Linked DNA regions of Homo sapiens. The protein of the gene in region 3 interacts with the protein of the main gene of each other region in a pairwise test. Each region holds a gene or a part of one and is shown on either strand. Other genes may lie near its edges.

Evidence for each region.
Region 1: the proteins of RAB25 (region 3) and RAB11FIP5 interact in a two-hybrid assay, tested with the Homo sapiens proteins (3 studies listed by BioGRID).
Region 2: the proteins of RAB25 (region 3) and RAB11FIP3 interact in a two-hybrid assay, tested with the Homo sapiens proteins (one study listed by BioGRID).
Region 4: the proteins of RAB25 (region 3) and MYO5B interact in binary tests that used the Homo sapiens proteins (3 or more experiments, as listed by UniProt).
Region 5: the proteins of RAB25 (region 3) and RAB11FIP1 interact in a two-hybrid assay, tested with the Homo sapiens proteins (one study listed by BioGRID).

What each region holds. Positions count from the first base shown.
Region 1 is NC_000002.12:73,102,333-73,107,086, forward strand, and holds part of RAB11FIP5 (rab11 family-interacting protein 5), read right to left. Parts: intron 1-4,754. UniProt on the Homo sapiens protein: Rab effector involved in protein trafficking from apical recycling endosomes to the apical plasma membrane. Involved in insulin granule exocytosis. May regulate V-ATPase intracellular transport in response to extracellular acidosis.
Region 2 is NC_000016.10:501,629-506,382, reverse strand, and holds part of RAB11FIP3 (rab11 family-interacting protein 3), read right to left. Parts: intron 3,380-4,754; coding exon 3,286-3,379; intron 3,120-3,285; coding exon of another isoform or gene 3,090-3,119; exon of another isoform or gene 2,718-3,089; intron 860-2,717; coding exon 756-859; intron 1-755. UniProt on the Homo sapiens protein: Downstream effector molecule for Rab11 GTPase which is involved in endocytic trafficking, cytokinesis and intracellular ciliogenesis by participating in membrane delivery. Recruited by Rab11 to endosomes where it links Rab11 to dynein motor complex.
Region 3 is NC_000001.11:156,059,815-156,063,959, reverse strand, and holds the start of RAB25 (ras-related protein Rab-25 precursor), read right to left. Parts: upstream 2,801-4,145; 5' UTR 2,560-2,800; coding exon 2,517-2,559; intron 1-2,516. UniProt on the Homo sapiens protein: The small GTPases Rab are key regulators of intracellular membrane trafficking, from the formation of transport vesicles to their fusion with membranes.
Region 4 is NC_000018.10:50,184,437-50,189,190, reverse strand, and holds part of MYO5B (unconventional myosin-Vb), read left to right. Parts: intron 1-4,754. UniProt on the Homo sapiens protein: May be involved in vesicular trafficking via its association with the CART complex. The CART complex is necessary for efficient transferrin receptor recycling but not for EGFR degradation.
Region 5 is NC_000008.11:37,874,944-37,879,697, forward strand, and holds part of RAB11FIP1 (rab11 family-interacting protein 1), read right to left. Parts: intron 2,609-4,754; coding exon 2,166-2,608; intron 380-2,165; coding exon 1-379. UniProt on the Homo sapiens protein: A Rab11 effector protein involved in the endosomal recycling process. Also involved in controlling membrane trafficking along the phagocytic pathway and in phagocytosis. Interaction with RAB14 may function in the process of neurite formation.

The DNA.
Region 1 (4,754 bases), on a different chromosome or scaffold from region 3:
CAAGGGGCAGTCACAGCCCAGGGTAGTTCCCATGGCCAGGCTGACCTGAGCAACTCCTAATGCCTTAGCAGTTATTTCTCACCATTAATTAATAAACTGGCACTCTGGTTTATAAAAAGGCAGCAGCAGCTAAGGTAACAGCCCAGAGCAGAGGTTAAAAAAATTTTTTTTTAAGCCTGAACTAGGACAGGAACAATGGGGAAGGTAGGAGAGCCAGGGGGGCCCCTGGGAGCACCCCTTTTTCGCCCCCTGCGGCAGCACTATGGCAGAGCCACTCCACTCTGATCTCTCACTACTGTTGGCAGCAGGGACAGTTATTGACCTCTTATCCCTCACCACCTGAGAAGGGACCCGAGATGCAGAACATCTTCTAACACCTGCCAGGTAAATGACATGGAACTGGCAGGGCTCAGCTTTTGTCTCAGAAACAAGTTGGAAAAACAATGATTTTAAGGGCCTTGTGTGAGAACCCCAGTGGACTGGAAGATGGGAGACCTAGGTTCTAGTCCTGGCTCTGCCTTACTAAGTGGCTTGAAGCAGCCATTTCACCTCTGTAAAATGAGGGTGATAAAATCATGCAGTTAAAGACAAGGTAAAGTGAAACTAGAACTATTATATTCAGAGTATGGTGACACAGTTGGAAAACCCTTTTCCCTAGAGCCTCCTCCACCCTGATGCCTCCTCTCCTCTCCAAGTGCCCACCACAGCAGCCTGCCTCACACACTGGCACACAGGAGCTGTGTGGGCCTCAAGCCAACCCCTGCTGTCTCCCCGCATCCACCGCCTACCCCATCTTTTGATTTGGTATCTACAGTAAAACTGCAAGCCAGACATAATTGCAGGACAGGATACAGCCTCTTATCAGGCCAGAAGATGATTCTTATCACCTCCTCTGGCACCATGCCTGGCACCAGCAACCTTTGGAGGGAGCCCAGGTCCTCATTCATGAGTTCCCCCTGCCTCTGTGGGGACAGCTCACTCATCCCTCCTCAGACCCCAGCCAGGTCCAGCCTCCCTCCCTCCTGGGCACAAGCACTTTTAATCCTCATCCTAATGCTGTAGGCTCCAAAGGTCTGTCACTGTCAGCTCACCCAGCACAAGGAAAAGCTGCAAAAATGGCTGGAGACAAGTCAAACCACAGAGAGCAACAGAAAAGATGTAGGGTTGATAGCACAGTGTAGGGAGAAAAGCATCAGGCTTAGACATCAGAAATCTGGCTGCCACTAAAGAGTTGTGTGACCTTGGACAGGTCATTCCACCTCCTGAGACCCCAGTCTCCATATTCGCAAAAATGGTGATCCCCCTGTCTGCCCTCAGGGAAGAATGAAATGAGGTGATACTGGGAAGGCACCCTTAAAAGTAGGCCAAACCACACAGAAAGATGTGGGTTTATTGTCTATCAAAGGCCTTTTACAGGCCATCATCAGCCCCATATAAGTGAGGTGGCCCAGGACCAAAAAGCAACAACCCTGCCCAGGAGGAAGGAGAGAACCCGCAAGATGACCTCTCTCAGGGGATCTCTGGCAGGTGGAAAAATAAAGAAATTCCACTTAACCCATCCCCCTCCCCAGTGTGCTCCTAACCCCATATTCACCCTGACCAGGAGACTCAGGTTGAGGAAGACAAAACCAAGTGGCGATGGTCCCCTCTGCCAAGGTCTCAGTTCAGACCCCACAACAGGGGGAAACAAACAATAACTTCCCTGCCAGGCTCATGGGAAGTACAGAACTGTGTGGTGAGAACGTTGCATTTGGGAACAAGGAGGGAGGGAAGAAAAAACACAACGCATTTGCCTTTAAATGCAGAAAACACCTTTGGAAGGTTACACAAGAACTGGTAATGTTGGATGTCTCTGAAGAGAGGAGCTAGGTGACTTAAGGTGGGTCAAGGGAAATTTTTTTCATTATGTGCCCTTCTGTACCTTTAGAATTTGGACCAGGTGAACTACTCAAAAGTAAATAGGGGCCAGGTGTGGTGGCTCACACCTGTAATCCCAGCACTTTGGGAGGCTGAGGCAGGCAGATCACTTGAGGTCAGGAGTTCGAGACCAGCCTGGCCAACATGGTCTCTACTAAAAATACAAAAATTAGCTGGGCGTGGTGGCACGCACCTGTAGTCCCAGCTGCTCGGTAGGCTGAGGCAGGAGAATCACTTGAACCTGGGAGGCGGAGGCTGTAGTGAGCCAAGATCACACCATTGCACTCCAGCCTGGGCAACACAGCAAGACTCTGTCTCAAAAAACAAAACAAAACAAAACAAAACTAAATAGGAAGTAAAGAAAGTCCTGCTGTTTTGCTGAGAGTGGCACACAGGGAACTAAGCTTGGCTCCCCTCACTCCCTCTCCTGGCCCAGTCCCACCACACTCACAGTTTCCCTGCCTCCAACTCACCCTGCCTCTAATCAGGTCTCACCTGTTATTCAAGGCCTCACCTCTCCCAAGAAGCCCACCCTGATCACTCCAACTGGTGAGCTCCCTCTTCTCCTGACCCCCTCATTCTCTCACGCTTTTTATATGCTGCTTTGTAGAGGAATTGTCCTTGCTGCGTTAGGCTTATCTCAAACATATTTTAGCCCTTCTGGAGAAAGGGCTATCCACTTTATTTCCCTGGTTTCCCCCACAGCACTGACCTAGGCACAGTGGTTACAATGGTTGTCCAGTAATTGCTTCCTGGATGTTGTGAAACAGAAGGGAAAAAATAGCAAATGACTGTATTGCTGCAGGAGGAAGAACAGGATGGCTTGGAGTGTTCTGTCACAGTAAAACCAGCATGTGACGTCTTGGGAAGGATTACGGAGTCTGGTATGTGCTGATGCCCCCAAGCCCTGCTTGAAAGGAGCAAATCTCCCCAGGGTGGAAAGTGCCCTGGTGGAAAGTGAGGCTGACCTTCTCAGGCCTCACTCCACTCCTTTTTTTATTTTTATTTTTTGAGACAGGATCTTGCTCTGTCACCCAGGCTGGAGTGCAGTGGGGCAATCATTGCTAATCGCAGCCTTGAACTCCCGGGCTCAAGTGATCCTCCCACCTCAGCCTCCTGAGTAGCTGGGACTACTGGTGTGCACCACCATGCCCAGCTAATTTTTTGTATTTTTGTAGAAATGGAGTCTTGCTATGTTGCCTAGGTTGCTCTTGAACTCTTGGCCTCCAGTGATCCTCCTGACGCGGCCTCCCAAAGTGCTGGGATTACAGGCATGAGCCACCACACCCAGCCCTCACTCCACTCCCGAGAGGTATCTGGTGGCAGTGACTCCCTCCCAAAGTATGAGACAACATCCCCCAGCCTCTGGGACAGACATAAGGCTAGAGCTGCAGACCAAATGTGCTTATCCCAATAAACCAAGGACTCACCCAGGAGAAGCAGGTCATGCCTACAGAGCACCAGATTAACCCCCGAGATCCATGTCAAGGAGAAGAGAGGAAGCCTTGGCAGGCAGCAGCTGAGCACCTGGCCCTGTGCAGAGCAGGGTCATGGAAGACATGGGGGAAGACTGAGGTGGGCAGTGTGGTGTGGTGGCCAAGAGCATAGACTGGGAAGCCAGACTGCCTGGGTTCACATCCTGACTTTGTGCCATGTGCTGTGGTCAAGTCCAGTGACTCATGCCTATAATCTCAGCACTTTGGGAAGCTGAGGCAAGAGGATCACTTGAGAGTTCATGGCTGCAGTGAGCTATGATGGCACCACTGCATGCCAGCCTCAGTGATGGAGCCAGACCCTGACCCCACCCCCTCAAAAAAAAGAAAGAAAAAGCAAAGTCACTTTACCTCTCCGTGCCAAGGTTTCCTCAGCTGTTAAACAGCACCTACACCTCAAGGGCTTGCTGTGGACAAATGGAAGTCCAGACCTTAAGACAGTGCCAGCACCCAGATAGGCCTTCATCAGCAATGCACTAGACCAACGAGGCAATGAAAATAATGCACCAAAACAGGTGCCACATGCTCCAGATGTGGGGATTCAGAGAAGGCTGGGGAGGCAGATGGGTTCCATGATGGCCGACAGGTCTCTGGTGTATGTCCCCTCCTCACAGAGGAGGAGACCACAGCCAGCGCCAGTGGCTCTGTCTGCTCCGAACATCTCCAGGGCTCCCTGTCTAGGCCCCAAAACACAGCACTTGGCTATAGGGCTTCCTCCAAATGTAGGGAGATATCCAGGCTTCCCCCCCTTTGGAATCTCTCCCCCACCAGTGGCCCACTCTTGGCCTTTCAGGCCTCTAGAACTGCCTTTGGATTGGACTACCCTTCCAGGTCAGCAGAGAAGCCCAATGTCCCCATCTCACTAAAACCTGGCAGGCACTTCCACAGAAACTCCGGGGTGCACACAGGGCTCCAAATGCCACCTCTTCTTTACCCCAAATCCTACAGCTCTGTGGGCTGCCCGGGTCTAATGGAAACCACACAGAGCACACCCTCCACTAAGTGCTGGGTAGTGAGAGTGTGCAGCTCTCCCTCTGCAAACCCCAGTTTCCTTGTCTGAGCTCTCTTCCAGCTCCCATGCTGGAGTCCCATGAGTAAGGGCTGTGCTCCCTTCTCCACTACCAGGTGAACCAAAGGTCACAGTGGCCTGTGATACCCCCTCCCCACCCTGCAGCTTCTCGGAGGTGCTGGCTGCCCCTGGGAGCCCCGTTTTGGGAGGCCCCACTTACTGCTCCTGAGAGGCCGGGGCCCAGCTCCATACAGAGGCCTCATGTGGCCAGCCAAGTCCCTCTCCTCTCTGGCCACCATTGTTCCCAAGGTAGAAATAACCTCAGGCCAGCTCAG
Region 2 (4,754 bases), on a different chromosome or scaffold from region 3:
CTGGCTGCCTCCTCTGCCCACAAGAGGCTGCCGGTGCCCAGCTACAGGTGTCATAGCCTGGGTAGCTGACTCCTGGGACAAGCTCATCTTACTTTGCACCGGAAACAGTCCTGCAAATCGGCTATGAGACAACATGGCGTGCCTCGTGTGAAAAACACCGAGAATTACACGGTATTCTAAGAAAAGTCTGCAAACCAGAGTGAGGCAAGCAGCTCCCACTCTTTCTCTGCAAACACGGCGTCACACTTCGCTTCCTCCCCAGCACTCCTGCCCACAGCGATGAGACTGCGCGTCCTGTCGCGTACTCAGCAGTCACTGCTCATTTCGCTTTCTGCTGCTGAGCGACTTCTCTAACCTGCATTCTTCCAGGACGGGCAAACCCCGTATGGACCAGAGTGGTGGGAGAGCTGCACCTCCAGGCCTGCTGGTGAGGCTGAGCACTGCGTGGGTTCGCAGTCAGTTCCTCCTCTGTGTGGGTCAGGTCTCAGCGCTCCCGAGAGGGAGGCAGTGCCCTCCTCTGGCCCTCTGTGTGTCTAGGGTTCCATGAGAGCACCAGTCAGAGCCTCGGGTCGCCTGCCTGCAGCCCACTGGGTAGGCTCAGATGACCACCTGGCACCACCCCCTCAGCCGGCTTCCAACGGGGATGGACGGGTGGCCAAGCCCCTGCTGTGTGAGGTAAAGAGAAGTAAATGGGGGCTGACAGGCGGGCACAGGAGGCGCCACGCAGAGGCCCGGGTCTCCTGGCCCAGGCTCACCTGTGCACCAGCTGCAGGTTCTCCTGCCTCAGGCGGCTGTGTTGCTCACCGGTGGCTGCCGTGTCCTTTTCCAGCTCCAGCACACGCCTTTCCAGGAAGACAACCTTGGCAATGAGACCAGGCTTCAGGGTCAGGCAGCCAGAAGCAGAAGGGCCTGCACCCCCAAGGGAACAACCTGGGAGGCCGCCTGGGGATTTTCTCAGCACAGAATCAGATCCACCTAGCTAGGCTGGTGTTGGATCCAACTTGTCCCATAAACCCACAAAGGTGCAGCTCCTAATGGGGCCGGGGTCTTGGGGAGCACTGTCATTCGACCCACAAATGCACACAGTGCCGCAGCTCTGAGGGCTCGGGGCCCAGGGGTGCCTTTGGACTGGCTGGCTGGTGGGCAGCAAGACTCAGCCCCCCAACACACAGTTGGGTCTCTGCTCAGCCAGATGCAGCTCACAGAGGCAGCCCAGGTGCCCATGGATGCAAGGGACAGACAGATCCATGTCTCGGTCCCTCCCTCAGAGAGTTCACACCAAGATGAGAATCAGACACCTGCGGAGGTAGGAGAAGGAGTGAAGGGAGCAGAGGAGGACTTGGCCTGGGTCAGCAGACTTGAGATGCTAGAGAAGTTGTAGGGAGGAGGTGGTGGGGATGCAAGAGGAGGTGAAGTACAGGAGGAGGTGAGGAGGTACAGGAGGAGGTGAGAGAGTACAGGAGGAGATGGGGGTATAGGAGGAGGTGGGGGAGCAGGAGGAGGTGAGGGGGTACAGGAGGTGAGGGGTGCAGGAGGAGGTAAGGGGGTACAGGAGATGAGGGGGTACAGGAGGTGAGGGGGGTACAGGAGGAGATGGGGGTGCAGGAGGAGGTGAGGAGGGTGCAGGAAGAGGTGAGGGGGTATAGGAGGAGGTGAGGGGGTATAGGAGGAGGTGAGGCGGTACAGGAGGAGGTGAGGGGGTACAGGAGGTAAGGGGGGTGCAGGAGGAGGTGAGGGGGTACAGGAGGAAGTGAAGGGTACAGGAAGAGGTGAGGGGGGTACAGGAGGAGGTGAGGGGGTACAGGAGGTGAGGGGTGCACAAGGAGGTGAGGGGGTACAGGAGGAGATGGGAGTGCAGGAGGAGGTGAGGGGGTACAGGAAGAGGTGAGGGGGGTACAGGAGGAGGTGAGGGGGTACAGGAGGTGAGGGGTGCACAAGGAGGTGAGGGGGTACAGGAGGAGATGGGAGTGCAGGAAGAGGTGAGGGGGGTACAGGAGGAGGTGAGGGGGTACAGGAGGTGAGGGGTGCACAAGGAGGTAAGGGGGTACAGGAGGAGATGGGAGTGCAGGAGGAGGTGAGGGGGTACAGGAGGAGGTGAGGGGGGTACAGGAGGAGGTGAGGGGGTACAGGAGGAGGTGAGGGGGTACAGGAGGAGGTGAGGGGGTACAGGAGGTGAGGGGGTGCACAAGGAGGTGAGGGGGTACAGGAGGAGATGGGAGTGCAAGAGGAGGTGAGGGGGTACAGGAGGAGGTGGGGGGGTACAGGAGGAGGTGAGGGGGTACAGGAGGTGAGGGGGTACACAAGGAGGTGAGGGGGTACAGGAGGAGGTGAGGGGGTACAGGAGGTAGTGAGGGGGTACAGGAGGTAGTGAGGGGGTACAGGAGGTGGTGAGGGGGTACAGGAGGTGGTGAGGGGGTACAGGAGGAGATGAGGGGTACAGGAGGAATTGAGGGGGTACAGGAGTAAGTGAAGGGGTCACAGAAGGTGAGGGGGTGCAGAAGGTGAGACGGAGTCTCCCTCTGTCGCCCAGGCTGGAGTGCAGTCGTGCAATCTCGGCTCACTGCAACCTCCACCTCCCAGGTTCAAGTGATTCTCCTGCCTCAGCCTCCCAAATAGCTGGGATTACAGTTGCCCGCCACCATGCGTGGCTAACTTTTGTATTTTTAGTAGAGACGGGTTTTCACTATGTTGGCCAGGCTGATCTCAAACTCCTGACCTCAAGTGATCTGCCCGCCTAGGCCTCCTAATGTGCTGGGATTCCAGGCGTGAGCCACCACATCTGGCTGAAAAGCGGGTCTTGACCACGGCAAGGCTGCCTTGCCCTGGCTGCTGTCACCCATTCCATTCAAGGCCCCAGGAGAAGCCCGTTCCTCAGGCTGTTGGCTCTGCAGTAACTGCAGGGCCAGCCCTTTTCTCCCAAATCATGGGTGCCCCAGGTCGCGTCTCCATGGGCCTGGTGGACTGAATGTCTGGGTGTCCCCCAGCCCGACTCAGACACAGTGGGGGTGGGATACCCGAGGGTGCTCACTCACTGCCCAGTCCACTCCTCCCAGCTGGCCCTTCGTGCACAACAGGAAGACTCCTTTTTCTCACATGGCCACGAGACCCCTTGGGGAAACCTGCCAAAGAGCATCGGGGCTGGATGGACAGTCTGGGGAGCCCTGGAGGACATGGGGTCACCTCCGGCTGTGCTGTCCCCACCTCCCGGGGTGTCTGCAGCGGCCCTTAGGCGTGGCTGTGTTCTAAATCCCCTACTTGCCACCTACCCAGCCCTCCAGGGCCTACCTTGTCAGCAATGTCCTCCTCTGGGCCCTCCATGAGCTCGGGGGAAGGGTCCTCCAGGGCCTCCATGGTCAGGGCCCCTGACTGGTGCAGGTACCTACAGAAAAGGCACAACAACAGAGGGAAGAAAGGGAAAAACCACAGGACATGCTCCGTCAGCACAAGCACTCCCAAGTCAATCTGAAAAGCAGGCAGCAGCATTGCAGGGGACAGGTCCTCCCCTGATCTGGGTGGTGGTCTTCTCCCACTTAAAGCACTATATACAGGGGGAGGTCCCAGGCTGGACATCTTTACCAGGGGCTGGGAGAAAGCAGGCCGTGCTCTGTGGTCTCAGAGTCTTCCTGGCGCTCTTTGGAACCTGACAGAACATGACCTCAGTCCCAGCCAGCGAGTGGCAGAGAGGACTTTGTACTTGGCTGCAATAAAACATGCCCTTCTTCGCAGAGACACGAACAATCTCGTCTCTACCAGAGGCCTGTGAGACATCAGCTCAGGACCTTGACCTGCAGACACCTCCCCTGTGCACATTCTTGATCTCAGACTTTCACAGGTGCTTTCTGTGGCAGGAAGAGTGAGGGTCCCAGGAAAGGTGTGGATCCCAGAAGTCTCACTCAGTGTCACCCTCACGGACACACTGGGAAACTGGTCCGACCGAGTCCAGGAAGACAGCAGACACACGTGTCCTCTGTGGCACCAGCTCCTGTGGACACGCCCCCAGCACCGCAGGCCATGCCAGTTACTACCCGGGCCAGGCTCGGGGACACAGCCTCATGGTCCTGAGTAGACGCAAAGGCCCATAGGCTGCGGCCTTGGGGCAGGAGCTTCTCCAGGGAGTGTGAACTTAGGCGCGCAGTAAGCGCGTGCTTGTGGTCACCACGTGGTCAGATTCGCTGTGGTGAATCTGTACCAACCCAAACTTGCCGGGAGTACAGAAAACTCTCAGAGCACTCGCACAGAAGAGCCAACAGCAAAGGTGCGTGTTCAGTTCTTTATACATCCTGGGAACCTCAGTACCAAGCCAGGCTCCAGGCTGACAGCCTGATGCTCAGAACTGCGTGACCGTTAAAAAGCACTGGCCCTCTCCGAGCTTCCTTGCCTATGAAATGGGGGGACCCTCTCCCAGCCTCCTTGCCTATGAAATGGGGGGACCCTCTCCCAGCCTCCTTGCCTATGAAATGGGGGGACACTCTCCCAGACTCCTTGCCTATAAAATGGGGGGACCATCTCCCAGCTTCCTTGCCTATGAAATGGGGGATCCTCTCCGAACTTCCTTGTCTGTGAAATGGGGGGACCCTCTCTGAACTTCCTTGCCTGTGAAATGGGGGGACCCTCTCCCAGCTTCCTTGCCTATGAAATGGGGGACCTTCTCCGAACTTGTCTGTGAAATGGGGGGACCCTCTCCCAGCTTCCCTGCCTATGAAATGGGGGGAGCCTCTCTGAACTTGTCTGTGAAATGGGGGGACCCTCTCCCA
Region 3 (4,145 bases):
GAGATACTAATGGTTCATGTTTACAGTGTACTGAATGCTTACTATGTGCCAGGCAGTGTCGTTAAAAGCTTTACACATATTACCTCATTTAATCCTCATAAGAATGCCATGAATCCCATTACTATTTTACCTGTTTTTACAGACAAGGCGCTTTGGAGGTCAAATGACTTGCCCAAGATAACAGGGCTAGTGTTGTAAACACAGAGATGTGCTGGCCAGATCAGCCTTCAAGGAAGGACTTGCCCCAAGCTGCAGGGAGTGCAGGCTGCAGACAGGCTCCAGCTGTCAGCTCCTTCAGCGTCTGCCTCTGGTGCAGACAGCGGCCTCACTGGAAGTCATGCCTTTTCTGGGCAGCCTACACCCAGTGCTCAAGCAAGGTGAGGCAATCACAGAGCTCCCCGCCCTTGACCCAGGTTTGTCCAGCCTGTGTTGCTGTTTGACTTCTCCCTCTGCCCAATTATGTTTCCTCTCCCTTCCTTTCACAGGTGCTGATTTGTAAAAAAACATTGAGCTGGGCGCGGTGGCTCACGCCTGTAATACCAGCACTTTGGGAGGCCTAGGAGGGCGGATCACAAGGTCAAGAGATCGAGACCATCCTAGCCAACATGATGAAACCCTGTCTCTACTAAAAATACAAAAATTAGCTGGGTGTGGTGGTGCACACCTGTAGTCCCAGCTACTCAGGAGGCTGAGGCAGGAGAATCGCTTGAACCCAGGAGGCGGAGGTTGTAGGAAGGCGGAGATTGCAGTGAGCCAAGATCGCTCCACTGCACTCCAGCCTGGGCAACAGAGCGAGACTCCGTCTCAAAAAACAAACAAACATTGAACACCCCAACTTCTTCTCAGCGTCTGCTTCTAGGGACCCCAACCCAACCCTCAATACTTTTTTTTTTTTTTTTTTTTTTTTAGACAGAGTCTTGCTCTGTTGCCCAGGCTGGAGTGCAGTGGCACAGTCTCGGCTTACTGCAACCTCTGCTTCCTGGGTTCAAGTGATTCTCCTGTCTCAGCCTCCCGAGTAGCTGGGATTACAGGCACGTGCCACCACACCCAGATAATTTTTGAATTTTTAGTAGAGACAGGGTTTCCCCATGTTGGCCAGGCTGGTCTGGAACTCCAGACCTTAAGTGATCCCGCCGCCTCGGCCTCCCAAAGTGCTAGGATTACAGGCGTGAGCCACTGCACCCGGCTGACCAACCCGCAATACTTGTAAGTGGCAGGGCTGAGATCTGAACCCAGTCTGGCTCCTGACCACAATGTTACACTGCCCCTCAAAATAAAATATGACTTTCGGGGATTGTTATGGTATTAATGAGGTAGTGGCAGGTACATAGTAAGTGCTCAATAAATGGTAGTTCCTCATATTATTGCCCCAGACTATTGCTAACCCTTTCCTTCCTGGAAAAGATGCCAGTAGTACAGGTTCCCCAGCTCAAGGGCGGGTTCTGGAGTGAGAGTCCCAGCTCAAGGGAGGGGCCGGGCTGAGGTTGGGAGAGGCATTGGGGTAGGGTGGCTGGAGAGTCCACCCTGCCCTAAAGGAAGTATGAAGGTGGGGTTGGAAAACAGCAAAGGCACCAAACACAGGGGCTAGAAAGATACATGCATGCTTCCAGGGACAGCAAAGTTGAGCCCAGTGCCTGGTATGCAGGTCCAGTGAGTCAGCCAAGGGCCAGGCAGACGAGGCTACAACCCTAGGAGTCCTCTGGATTCTATCAGACTCTGCAGCAAATTCATGATATTTTCTGTCTTCCCTATGTATTTATTGCCCCACCCTATAATGGGATGTGTCTCTCCTTTCTCTCGTTCCCTGTACACCTGCCCAGAAAAGATGACTTTCTTCCTCTTGTTTGCTGGTTTCCCTTTCTTCTCAAGAGAGAAGTCCTGGCCGGGTGTGGTGGCTCATGCCTGTAATCCCAGCACTTTGGGAGGCCGAGGTAGGCGGATCATGAGGTCAGTTCCAGACCATCCTGGCCAATATGGTGAAACCCCGTCTCTATTAAAAATACAAAAATAAGCCGGGCGTGGTGGCAGGTGCTTGTAGTCCCAGCTACTTGGGAGGCCGAGGCAGAAGAATCGCTTGAACCCAGGAGGTGGAGGTTGCAGTGAGCTGAGATTGTACCACTGCACTCCAGCCTGGGCGACAGAGCAAGACTCCGTCTCAGAAAAAAAAATAAAAGAGGGAAGTCCTTTCTGAAGTCTGACCTCCATCTCTTGTGCTGCACTGGCTGACACCAGGGATTTGGGTTTCTATTAGGAACGGGGCAGAGGAGCCTAACTCAGCACTCTTAAGGAGGAATCAACATCATTATTTACCACAGTAGAGCATACTCAGAAGCTCCCTGACTTTTGCCCCTGCAACCAGACCCTCCCCCACTCCCTGCAGCTTTCTTTCTGAAGGAATGAGGAGCCCCAGGAGGTCTTGGTAAGAGATAAAAAAACAGGAGGGGGCCCTCTCTGGCTCTATTCAATCTCTTTCTGGGTCTCTCAGGCTTCCTCTTGCTTCAGGGAACCCAACTCACCCTTGAAGACAAAGTTATAATCTTCCTCAGTTCCATTCCCCATCTTGGCTCCGCATGGAGGGTGCAGGTGTCTTCGGGGACAGAGGCGACAAATCTGTGTGTTGGCTCAATGCCCTCAACCCTCAGCTCTCAAAAGATCTGGTCCTGCCCCTCCTCTCATTGGGGGTAAGGGGACTTCTGCAGCCAGAGGGATTGGGGGCCAACTCAAGGTTAGGCAGGGCCTAGGGAGGATCAGCTCTGGCAGGTGGGGGTGCTGTAAGGAAGCAGAGAGGACGGAAGCTGAGAACAGGAAGAGCGGGGTGGCTGGAGACCTGGGGCCCAGGTGGGTGGAGAGATGATGACGTCAGACAGGTTCGACAGGTTGGGTGTCTGCTCTCAGCCTGGGCTCCCGCAAGCGGGAGAAGCAGCTCCAGCGGGGGGGAAGCGAAAAAGGGACAGGACCTTCAGAGACAGCCCACTGAGGGCTGAGTGTGCATTGCTGGGCTTCTGGAATCTGTGGTGAGGGCCGGTCCCCCAACTAATGAGCAAGAAATAGCCCCTCAGAAACCCACTTGAGGCCAGGCGCGGTGGCTCACGCCTGTAATCCCAGCACTTTGGGAGGCTGAGGTGGGCGGATCACCTGAGGTCGGGAGTTTGAGACCAGCCTGACCAACATGGAGAAACCCCGTTTCTACTAAAAAAATACAAAATTAGCTGGGCGTGGTGGCACATGGCTGTAAACCCAGCTACTTGGGAGGCTGAGACAGGAGAATCGCTTGAACCCAGGAGGCGGAGGTTGTGGTGAGTCGAGATCGCGCCCTTGCACTCCAGCCTGGGTAACAAGAGCGAAACTCCGTCTAAAAAAAAAAAAAAAAAAAATTAGCTGGGCATGGTGGTGGGCGCCTGCAATCCCAGCTACTTGGGCGGCCAAGGTAGGAGAATTGCTTGAAGCCGGGAGGCAGAGGTTCCAGTGGGCTGAGATCGTGCCACTGCACTCCAGTCTGGGCAACAGAGACTGCTTCTCAAAAAAAAAAAAAAAAGGCCGGGTGCGGTGGCTCATACCTGTAATTCCAGCACTTTGGGAGGCCGAGGCGGGCGGATCACAAGGTCAGGAGATCGAGACCATCCTGAAGGAATGAGGAGCCCCAGGAGGTCTTGGTAAGAGATAAAAAAACAGGAGGGGGCCCTCTCTGGCTCTATGGTAGAAACGGTGAAACTGTGTCTCTACTAAAAATACAAAAAATTAGCCAGGCGTAGTGGCAGGTGCCTGTAGTCCCAGCTACTCGGGAGACTGAGGCAGGAGAATGGCGTGAACCCAGGAGGCAGAGCTTGCAGTGAGCCGAGATCGCGCCACTGCACTCCAGCCTGGGCGACAGAGCAAGACTCCGTCTCAAAAAAAAAAAGAGGCCTGGTGCGGTGGCTCCCACCTGTAATCCCAGCACTTTAGGAGGCCGAGGCCAGCGGATCACGAGGTCAGGAGTTCAAGACCAGCCTTACCAACATGGTGAAACCCTGTCTCTACTAAAAATATACAAAAATTAGCTAGGCATGGTGTCACGCGCCTGTAATCCCAGCTACTCAGGAGGCTGAGGCAGGAGAATTGCTTGAACTCGGGAGGCGGAGATTGCAGTGAGCCAAGATTGTGCCATT
Region 4 (4,754 bases), on a different chromosome or scaffold from region 3:
CCATAACTCATGGTGGCTTAGCTTAGTGGATGTTGAGAATCTCAAGGGCTTTGGCCCCTCTATGGTCCCAGGAAAGGCTGAAAAGAAGCATGGAGGTTGTGTGTCATGCTGTCACTTTCCTTCTGAGGCTCATTCTCTGTCTTGCATGTGGTTTTTTTCTTCTCTCATCCCTAGTTCCAATTCCGTTGATCCTCTGCTCCCCGTTTTCAGATGGGCCTATAAGCCCAGTGGATCCTGCTTCACCATGTTGGCGATCATCAGAATTTTGAAGTTTGTACTTGTGACTTGTGGATGTGGCATATTCCAATGGCCTGTAACCTGTAATCATTGAGCAGGCTCTTGCCCTGCCCTCCTTTGTTGATAGGTGTGTGTGTTTTTTTTTTTTTTTTTTTTTTTTTTTTTTTTATGACAGAGTCTCACTGTGTCACCAGTCTAGAGTGCAGTGGAACGATCTCAGCTCACTGCAACCTCTGCCTCCTGGGTTCGAGTGATTCTGCGGCCTCAGCCTCCTGAGTATCTGGGACTACAGGTGTGTGCCACCACTCCCGGCTACTTTTTGTATTTTTAGTAGAGACGGGGTTTTACCATGTTGGCCAGGATGGTCTCAATCTCTTGACCTCATGATCTACCCACCTCAGCCTTGTTGATAGTTTTTATGTGATGCTTTATCTAAGTAGGCTGAGATTCTGGAGAACAGAGGCCATACCAGATGTTTTTAGGAGCCTTCAGTGTGTTTGGTGATAAAAGCTAAATACACAAAGTACACTAACAATACAGGATTATCTGTGTGTCATTAGAGGAGTGCACATACTCCTCTACAAGTTACAGGCATTTTGTAGAAGTGTTGGTCTGGTGGGCTACAGTATTGCGGGAAAGGCTTCCTTTAAGGTGTAGTGGGACATGACTGGGGCCTAAAGAATGAATAGGATTTGAAATGCATGAGGAGGCTGTAAAGAAGGATGTTCTCTCAGGAGGAGACAGGGGAGAGTGAGTTTAAGCATAGGGACAGGTATGAGCTAGATGTATATGGGGATAATTATAGCACTATTTTTAACTATTTTGAAATATACACTTACAGAAACATTGCAAAAATAGTGCAGTTTCTATATTTTTCCAGATTGCTCCAGTGTTAACATGTCATATAACCATAGTGCAATTATTGAAACCAGGAGGTTAACATTTCTGTAATACTACTAACTGGTCTATAAAGCTCACCGGAATTTTACCACCTTTTTCACTAATGTTCTTTTTCTGGGCCAGGATCCTGTTTAGGGTTCCACATTGCCTTTAGGGTTGTAGCTCCCTGCCCCCCTCTAGTGACAGTTGCTCAGTTTTTTGTCTTTCATGACCTTGACACTTGAAGAACATTGGTCAAGCCAGGCACAGTCACTCACACCTGTAATCCTAGCACTTTGGGAGGCCAAGATGGGAGGATCCCTTAAACCCAGGAGTTCGAGACTAGCCTGGACAACATAGCGAGACCTCATCTCTACAAAAAATAGAAAAAATTAGCTGGGTGTGATGGCATGCACCTGTGGTCCTAGCTACTCTGGAGGCCGAGGTGGGAGGATTGCTTGAGCCTGGGAGTTGAGGTAGCAGTGAGCTGTGATTGTGCCACTGCACTCCAGGCTGGGTGACAGAGTGAGACCCTGTCTGCCCACCGCCCACCCCCCCAAAAAAAGCATTTCTCAATAATTTTGTAGAATGATTTTGGGTTTGTCAGACTGTCTTATGCTTACATGGAGGTTGTGACTTTTGGGCAAGAACACATCATAAATGCTGTGCCTTTCTCACTGCATCACCTCAGGAGACAGTGATATCAATGTGTCCTGTTACTGACGGATCACTTTGATCCCTTGGTTAAGCTGATGCCTGTCAGTTTCCTTTTATTGAAGAATGGAATTTAGAAATGAAGATCTGGTTGCTAGGTGTACTCATTACTACTTTTTGTAGTTATGTAGAAATTACAGAGACTAGAACTCAATAAATGTTTTATTAAGGGCAAGGGAAGTAGAAGAGTCAACTATGAACTTGAAATATCCACCTTGAGTGTGGACAGAAGTCAGGTTGGAGCAGGGATAATTCTTGATTTTTGACATGTTGGGTTTGGGATGAAAATGGTTTGTCTAAGTGAAAGCATTTATTTACATTTGGAGATTTACGAAAGAGCTTAGAGGAGAAATGTCAGGATCTGGGGTTCTTGCAAATGATGCCTGGGATTTGCTTTTCTTTAATGAAGAAATGCAGTTGTCTGATAGCATGGTGTTAATAAGGGTAAGATCAGGAGCTTGGTATGGGCATTTCCAAGGCCTTTGTGACTATGATCTTGAGGTGGACACCCTGGATATTGTGGCGCTCTCAGCTCCGACACATTGGAACAGATACTTTCTAAGCCTTGATTTCTTTATCTGAAGAATTGGGGTGGTACCTGCACCATGGGAAGGTTACTGGAGGCTTATAATCCTAATCCATGTGAAGTGCTTGTCTAACATAGTGTTGGCAACTGTTCATTAGTTTGCTTCTCCCTCCAGTCACCATGCTGGGTGGCAGTCAGCATTATGTGGCTAGCATGTTTTTTCCCCTAACCCTTCCCTGCTGTCCTGAAGGGGTCTTGATCACAAGGAGACTTGGTGAAAGAGGAAGTAGGATTGCTACAAACATGAACTATGAGAGCGGTAGACAAGATATGGTACTCCCCACCACCCCTGGGGAAGGAGCAAGAGCAGTCTGAAAGAAGTTTTAAGTTTAACCTGTGCTTTCTGGTCTCTTATTATAGCTTTAAAGGAAAATTAAAAAGCATTTTTCACAATGCTTCTGTTTTCCCTCTGTGAATACAAATGATTATTGAAACAATCCATACAATGCAGGAAAGACAAAAGCTCTGTAGTCTCATTCCCAGAAACAGCTGCTCTTGACCACTTAGGCATGTTCTCTGGACCTCCGTTGTCCAACAGGGTAACTGCATGTGGCTGCTGAGCACTTGCGATGAGGCTGGCCCAGCTTGGGATGAGCTGGAAGCGTGCAGTACTGTACACACTGGGTTTCCAAGACTTAGAAAAATGTATGCGAAATATCCTTCATACTTCTTATATTGGTTATGTGTTGAAGTGATTGTTATTTATATATTGGCTAAAATATTCTGTTCAATTCACCTTTTAAATGTGGTTATTAGAAAATTTAAAGTACCACAGGTGGCTCACAGTTGTAGTTTGCATTCTGTTTCTCTTGGGCAGTGCTGCTTTAGACTTATGCACAATATGTACTCAAAACAAATGGGATCATGCCATGTCTATTACTCTAAATCTTAATCTATGGCTATCTTTTCCTGTAGCCTACAAAGGCAATTTTGCCATTTTTAATGGCTGCACAAGGCAGCATATGGATGTACTGTAATTTTTTCTTAAAAATATACATTTTTTAAATTGCCAAGATCTGATGCCATATACTGTAATGTGTTTAACCATTCCCATGCTGATGAGCATTTAGGTTGGTTCCAATTATTTTCCTTTTGTTTTTTGTTGACAGTAATAATTGCACAAATTTATGGGGTTCAAGTGATTTTTTTAATACACGTATACAATGTATAATGATTAAATCGGGCAATTAGGTTATCCACCACCTCAAACATTTATCATTTCTTTGCATTAGAAACATTCAAGATCCTATCTTCTAGCTTTTTTGAACATACTAATAAATTGTTAATCTTTTGATACTGTGAAAGATTGTTCTTGTAACCTCATTTATTTTCTCAGAATAAATTCCTAAAGCTGGAATTGCTGGCATGCACATTTATAGTCTTCATTGATATGGCCAATAGCCACCACAAGAGAACCAGTCTGTTTCTTCGCCACTCTAAGTTCGGGTCATTGTTCTTTCTCTCTCTCTCTCTTTTTTTTTTTTTAAATTCTTATTCATACTAAATGTTTTACACATGTTTTAAAGTTGACTTTCATTGGAGGGTTGAGCCTCTGTTCACATGCTTGGTAGGCTCTACATTATTGATCACTGGGAACAATGTGTTGTTTTCCTTATATTTCTTGTTTGTATTAACTGGCATTATTTATAACTGTTTTTGCTCATTTAAATGACTACTCTATATTTTTTATTTTTTTGAGACAGGGTCTCATTCTGTCACCCAGGCTGGAGTGTGTGTGGTGGTGCAATCATGGCTCACTACAGCCTCAATCTCCTAGGCTCAAGCAATCCTCCCACCTCAGCCTCCCAAGTAGCTGGGAACAGGCATGCGACACCATGCCCAGCTAACTTAAAAATAATATATATATATATATTTTTTTCTGTGTGTGTGTGTGTGTGTGTAGAGATAGGGTCTCACCATGTTGCTCATGCTGGTCTTGAACTCCTGGCCTCAAGTGATCCTCCCACCTCAGCCTCCCAAAGTGCTGGGATTATAGGCATGAGTCACAGCACCCAGTCCACTCTATATTTTGAGATAGGAAAACATGGAAACCAGAATATTCAGGATACAATATATACATTTAAAGAATAAAGCACCTTGGCATGTATTTTCCCCTTCATTTGTTCTGAGCTTATGTATTTTGAACCCTCTAGTTGGACAACTACTGGTTATGGAGTGCTTTTGTGCCAAATCACTTCTCAGCACTACATGTTAGCTCATTTAACAATAACACAGGCTTATGTGACTTTCCCAAAGCTGCCTGGCTTCAGGGCCCAGCTTCTGACCACTGTGTTCTACTGCCTTCCATGAGGTTATCTGTCCCATTTATGGTGAGTCA
Region 5 (4,754 bases), on a different chromosome or scaffold from region 3:
TAGGACGGCAGGGTCATAGACTTCAAGGAGTCCTTGGTGGAAGATTCGGAGAGCTGCCTGTCAGAAGACAGCCCACCTCCTTCAGCAGGCTCCTTCCAAGACCCAGCCGCCAGGTTCTCTGTAGAAGAGAACAAATGCTTCTTTCTGAAGCCCTTGGGGGATGGGGAGGAGGACGGGCTGCTATCCTTGATCTCACCCTTGGCTTCTGGCTGCTCCAGGTAAACATGGTTCCCATTGATGCAGACATTAGAGCGGGAAAGGACATCATTCTTAGACCGAAGGCCACCAAGAAAGGAAAGTCCTTCCTTCTTGGGAAGGGTAAAGTTGACCTGGTTCAGTTGCTTAAGATCCGTACTCGCTGTTCTCTTGTGAGACATGACTTTGGGAAGAAAAAGAACAGAAAGGGGATAAGATGTTAAACGGGTGGTTTGCAGTGTAGGGGCATCTGTCAACGTCTGGATACATTTCTGGTTGCCACAACTTGGAGGGGGTGTGCTGCTATTCGTATCCAGCAGGTAGAGGACAAGGATGATACTGAACATCTTACAACGTATAGCACAGCCCCCCACGACAAAGGCCTGTCTAGTCTAAACTGTCCACAGTGCTGAGGTTGAGAAACTCTGGGTTAAACCAATGAAAAGGGCAGCACTCTTGGTAGAGTAGCAGAATCCGGCCAATGGGAGGGATTTAGACATTGAAATTGAAGTTCAAAATACATAATTAACTCAGAGCTAAAGGAAGCAGATTCCTTGGCTTCTGATAAGGCTATATCCCACGAGGGTTGAGCACATCACAGGAACTCAATAACTACCTGATGAATTAATGAAATATCAGAATTACCATAAGGTTCCATGGTTTTACCCTTAAAAAAAAGAAAAAAAAAACTTGGAAGACACTCATTCTGTTAGCTCTAAAAGCTTGTACTAGTGGACATCATTTATAGAGCCAGGAACTCTGGAAAAGGAATTTATACATTCTTAGAAACCAGAGGGTATAATCCCAGCACTTTGGGAGGCCAAGGCAGGTGGATCACTTGAGGTCAGGAGTTCAAAACCAGCCTGGTCAACATGGTGAAACCCCAACTCTACTAAAAATACAAAAATTCACCGGGTGTGGTGGCACGGACCTGGAATCCCAGCTATTCGGGAGACTGAGGAAGGAGAATTGCTTAAACCCAGGAGGCGGAAGTTGCAAAGAGCCAAGATCGCACCATTGCACTCCAGCCTGGGTGACAGAGCAAGACTCCATCTCAAAAGAAAAGAAAAGAAAGAAAGGAAGGAAGGAAGGAAGGAAGGAAGGAAGGAAGGAAGGAAGGAAGGAAGAAAGAAGGAAAGAAACCAGAGGGCTTAGAAATAGAGAGGGCATCTCAGCCATGGGCAATGGTTCACACCGGTCATAAGAGCCCTTTGAGAGGCTGAGGCAGGAGGATCACTTGAAGCCAGGAGTTTCAGACCAGCCTGGGCAACATAGTGAGACCTCATCTCTAAAAAAAAAATTTTTTTTAATTAATCAGGTGTGATGATGCACACCTGTAGTCCCAGCTCCTCAGAAGGCCAAGGTGAGAGGATTCCTTGAGCCCAGGAGTTGGAGGCTGCCGTAAGCTATGATCGCGCCACTGCACTCCAGCGTGGGCAATAGAGCAAGACCCTGTCTCTAAAACAAACAAACAAAAAATATTTTAAAAAAAGAAACAGAGAGGGCATTTTTTTTTTTTTGAGACAGAGTCTCACTCTGTCACCCAGGCTGGAGTGCAGTGGCACGATCACAGCTTACTGCAGCCTCTACTTCCTGAGCTCAAGCAATCCTCCCAGCCTAGCCTCCTGAGTAGCTGGGACTACAGGAGTATGTCATCACATCTGGCTAATTTTTATATTTTTTGTAGAGACAGGGTTTCACCATGTTGCCCAGGCTGGTCTCAAACTCCTGGGCTCAAGCAATCTGCCTGCCTCAGCCTCCCAAAGTGCTGGGATTACAGGCGTGAGCCACCACGCCTAGCCTTAGAGAGGGCATCTTAACCACCGCTATCATCATCCCCACCACCATGATTTTGTAATTGAGGAATTGAATTAAACTCTTTCTCTTGAGATTTGTCTGTTTCTTCTCTCTCAGAACGAAGCATGGTAAGAGGAAGAAGAGAGGTCAAGCAGGAAGAGGCAGAAACTCACCATCCGAGGCCGAGGAGGACTCATCCTCATTGTCATCTTCATCCCACTGGGACTGAAAGTCTCCGGGACGAAGCAGCACTTTTTCTGGCTTTGAAGTCGGCAGGACAGACATGGACTGGGAAAGAGGCGTCTTCTGCAAATTTGACTTGGAAAGTAAGGTCTTGATCTTTGATTTCTTTTTCTTGTCTTTAACCACAGACTCATCATCACTGTCGACCGAAGGTGTCGTGCTAGGGATGATGGCGGAGGCGGTGTCTGACCCACTGTCCTTATTCTTCCCCTTGATCTTGTCCTTCAGCTTTCCAAATGGATTCCGAGACTTGTCTTTCATAGAAAGGTCAAACATGCTGGCAGTCATGTTGTTTCTCATAAACTGGATGTCAACCTCAATTTCTCCTCGCTCCTTGTCCTTCTTTCCTGGTTTGGATTTCAACTTATACCACCTGAAAGGAGAAAGGCTGAGGAGTTACCTTTGAATGGAAGCAACTGCAACAATGTTCACAATCCCCATGAACTGGCCTCTCCTCTCTGCTACCAGCAGCCTCTTCAATGCATGCATTCTCATGCTTTCTCTTCGGGAAGTGGTAGATGAGAGCAGAATTTTTTTTTTTTTTTTTTTTTTTTTTTTTGACACAGAGTCTTGCTCTGTCACCCAGGCTGGAGTGCAATGCCACCATCTCGGCTCACTGCAGCCTCTGCCTCCTGGGTTCAAGTGATTCTCCTGCCTCAGCCTCCTGAGTAGCTGAGATTACAGGAGCGCGTGACCATGTCCAGCTAATTTTTGTATTTTTAGTAGAGATGGGGTTTCACCATGGTAGCCAGGCTGGACTCGAACTCCTGACCTCAGATGATCCGCCCGCCTCAGCCTCCCAAAATGTTGGGATTACAGGCGTGAGCCACTGCACCCGGCTGAGAGCAGAATTTGCACTTTTATTTCTTTTGTTTTGTTTTTTATTTTGCACTTTTATTTTTGAGAAGACACGCGCTAGACAAAGATAGGATCCAGTGTTGTGCTTAGCGTATAATCACCTCAAATCCTGATTCAATAAAGAGCTCATTCTAAAAATAAAGAAAAAAAAATATTCCATGGAATCACTTCCGATGAGTGATGTTTTCCTTCAGTAGGGTAAAAATGTAAAGATCAGGGCAGGTGCGGTGGCTCACACCTGTAATCCCAGCACTTTGGGAGGCTGAGGTGGGTGGATCACAAGGTCAGGAGTTCGAGACCAGCCTGGCCAATATGGTGAAACCCCATCTCTACTAAAAATATAAAAAATTAGCCGGGTGTGGTGGCAGGCGCCTGTGGTCCCAGCTACTCAGGAGACCGTGGCAGGAGAATCACTTGAACCCAGGAGGCAGACGTTGCAGTGAGCCGAGATCGCACCACTGCACTCCAGCCTGGACAACAGAGTGAGACTCCATCTCAAAAAAAAAAAAAAAAAAAAAAAGCAAAGATCATACACAAACAGTTAAGAAGGGTGGCGTGCAAATGATGTATAATTAAATCTCAGAGAAAATCAAGTTTGTAGTAAGGAATGGTCCCTGCCAGGGAGTAAAAAAATAATAATAATACAACACAGAATTAAAAAAAAAAAAAAAGTGGGGAGGGGGTTGGGCATGGTGGCTCACACCTGTAATCCCAGAGATTTGGGAGCCTGAGGCAGGAGGATCACTTGAGGCCAGGAGTTCAAGACCAGCCTGGGCAATATTGCGAGACTCCATCTCCATAAAAAATTAAAAAATTTGCCGGCATGGTGGTGTGCGCCTATACTCTCAGCTACTCAACATGAGCCTAGGAATTCGAGGCTGCAGTGAGCTATAATTGCACCACTGCACTCTAGTCTGGGTGACAAAGTGAGACTCTGTTTCTAAAAATAAATAAATAAAAATAAAGAATTTTTTAAAAGAGTGAAATCAGGCTAGGCACAGTGGCTCACGCCTGTGATACCAGTACTTTGGGAGGCCGAGGCAGGCAGATCACCTGAGGTCAGGAACTCAAGACCAGCCTGGCCAACATGGCGAAACCCCGTCTCTACTAAAAATACAAAAATTAGCCGGGCATCATGGCGAGCACCTGTAATCCCAGCTATGCAGGAGGTTGAAGCAGGAGAATTGCTTGAACCCGGGAGGCGGAGGTTGCAGTGAGCCAAGATCATGCCACTGCACTCCAGCACTCCAGCTTAGGCGACAGAGCCAGACTCCATCTCAAAAAAAACAAAAAAAAAAGTGAAATCAGTCAGTTAGAAAATGACAAACACTATATGAGTCCACTTATGTGAGGTTCCTGGGTTAGTCAAATTCATCCAGTCAGAAAGTAGAATGGTGATTGCCGGAGGAGGGGAAGGAGAGAATGAGGAGTTAATGTTTGATGGGTATAGAGCTTCAGTTGTGGAAAATGAAAAAGTTCCGGAGATGGATGGCGGTGATGATCACACAACAATGTGAATATTCTTAATGACATTGAACTGCACACTTAAAAATGGTTAAAATGGGGCCAGGCGCAGTGGCTCACGCCCGTAATCCCAGCACTTTGGGAGGCCAAGGCGGGCAGATCACTTGAGGTCAGGAGTTTGTGACCAGCCTGACCAA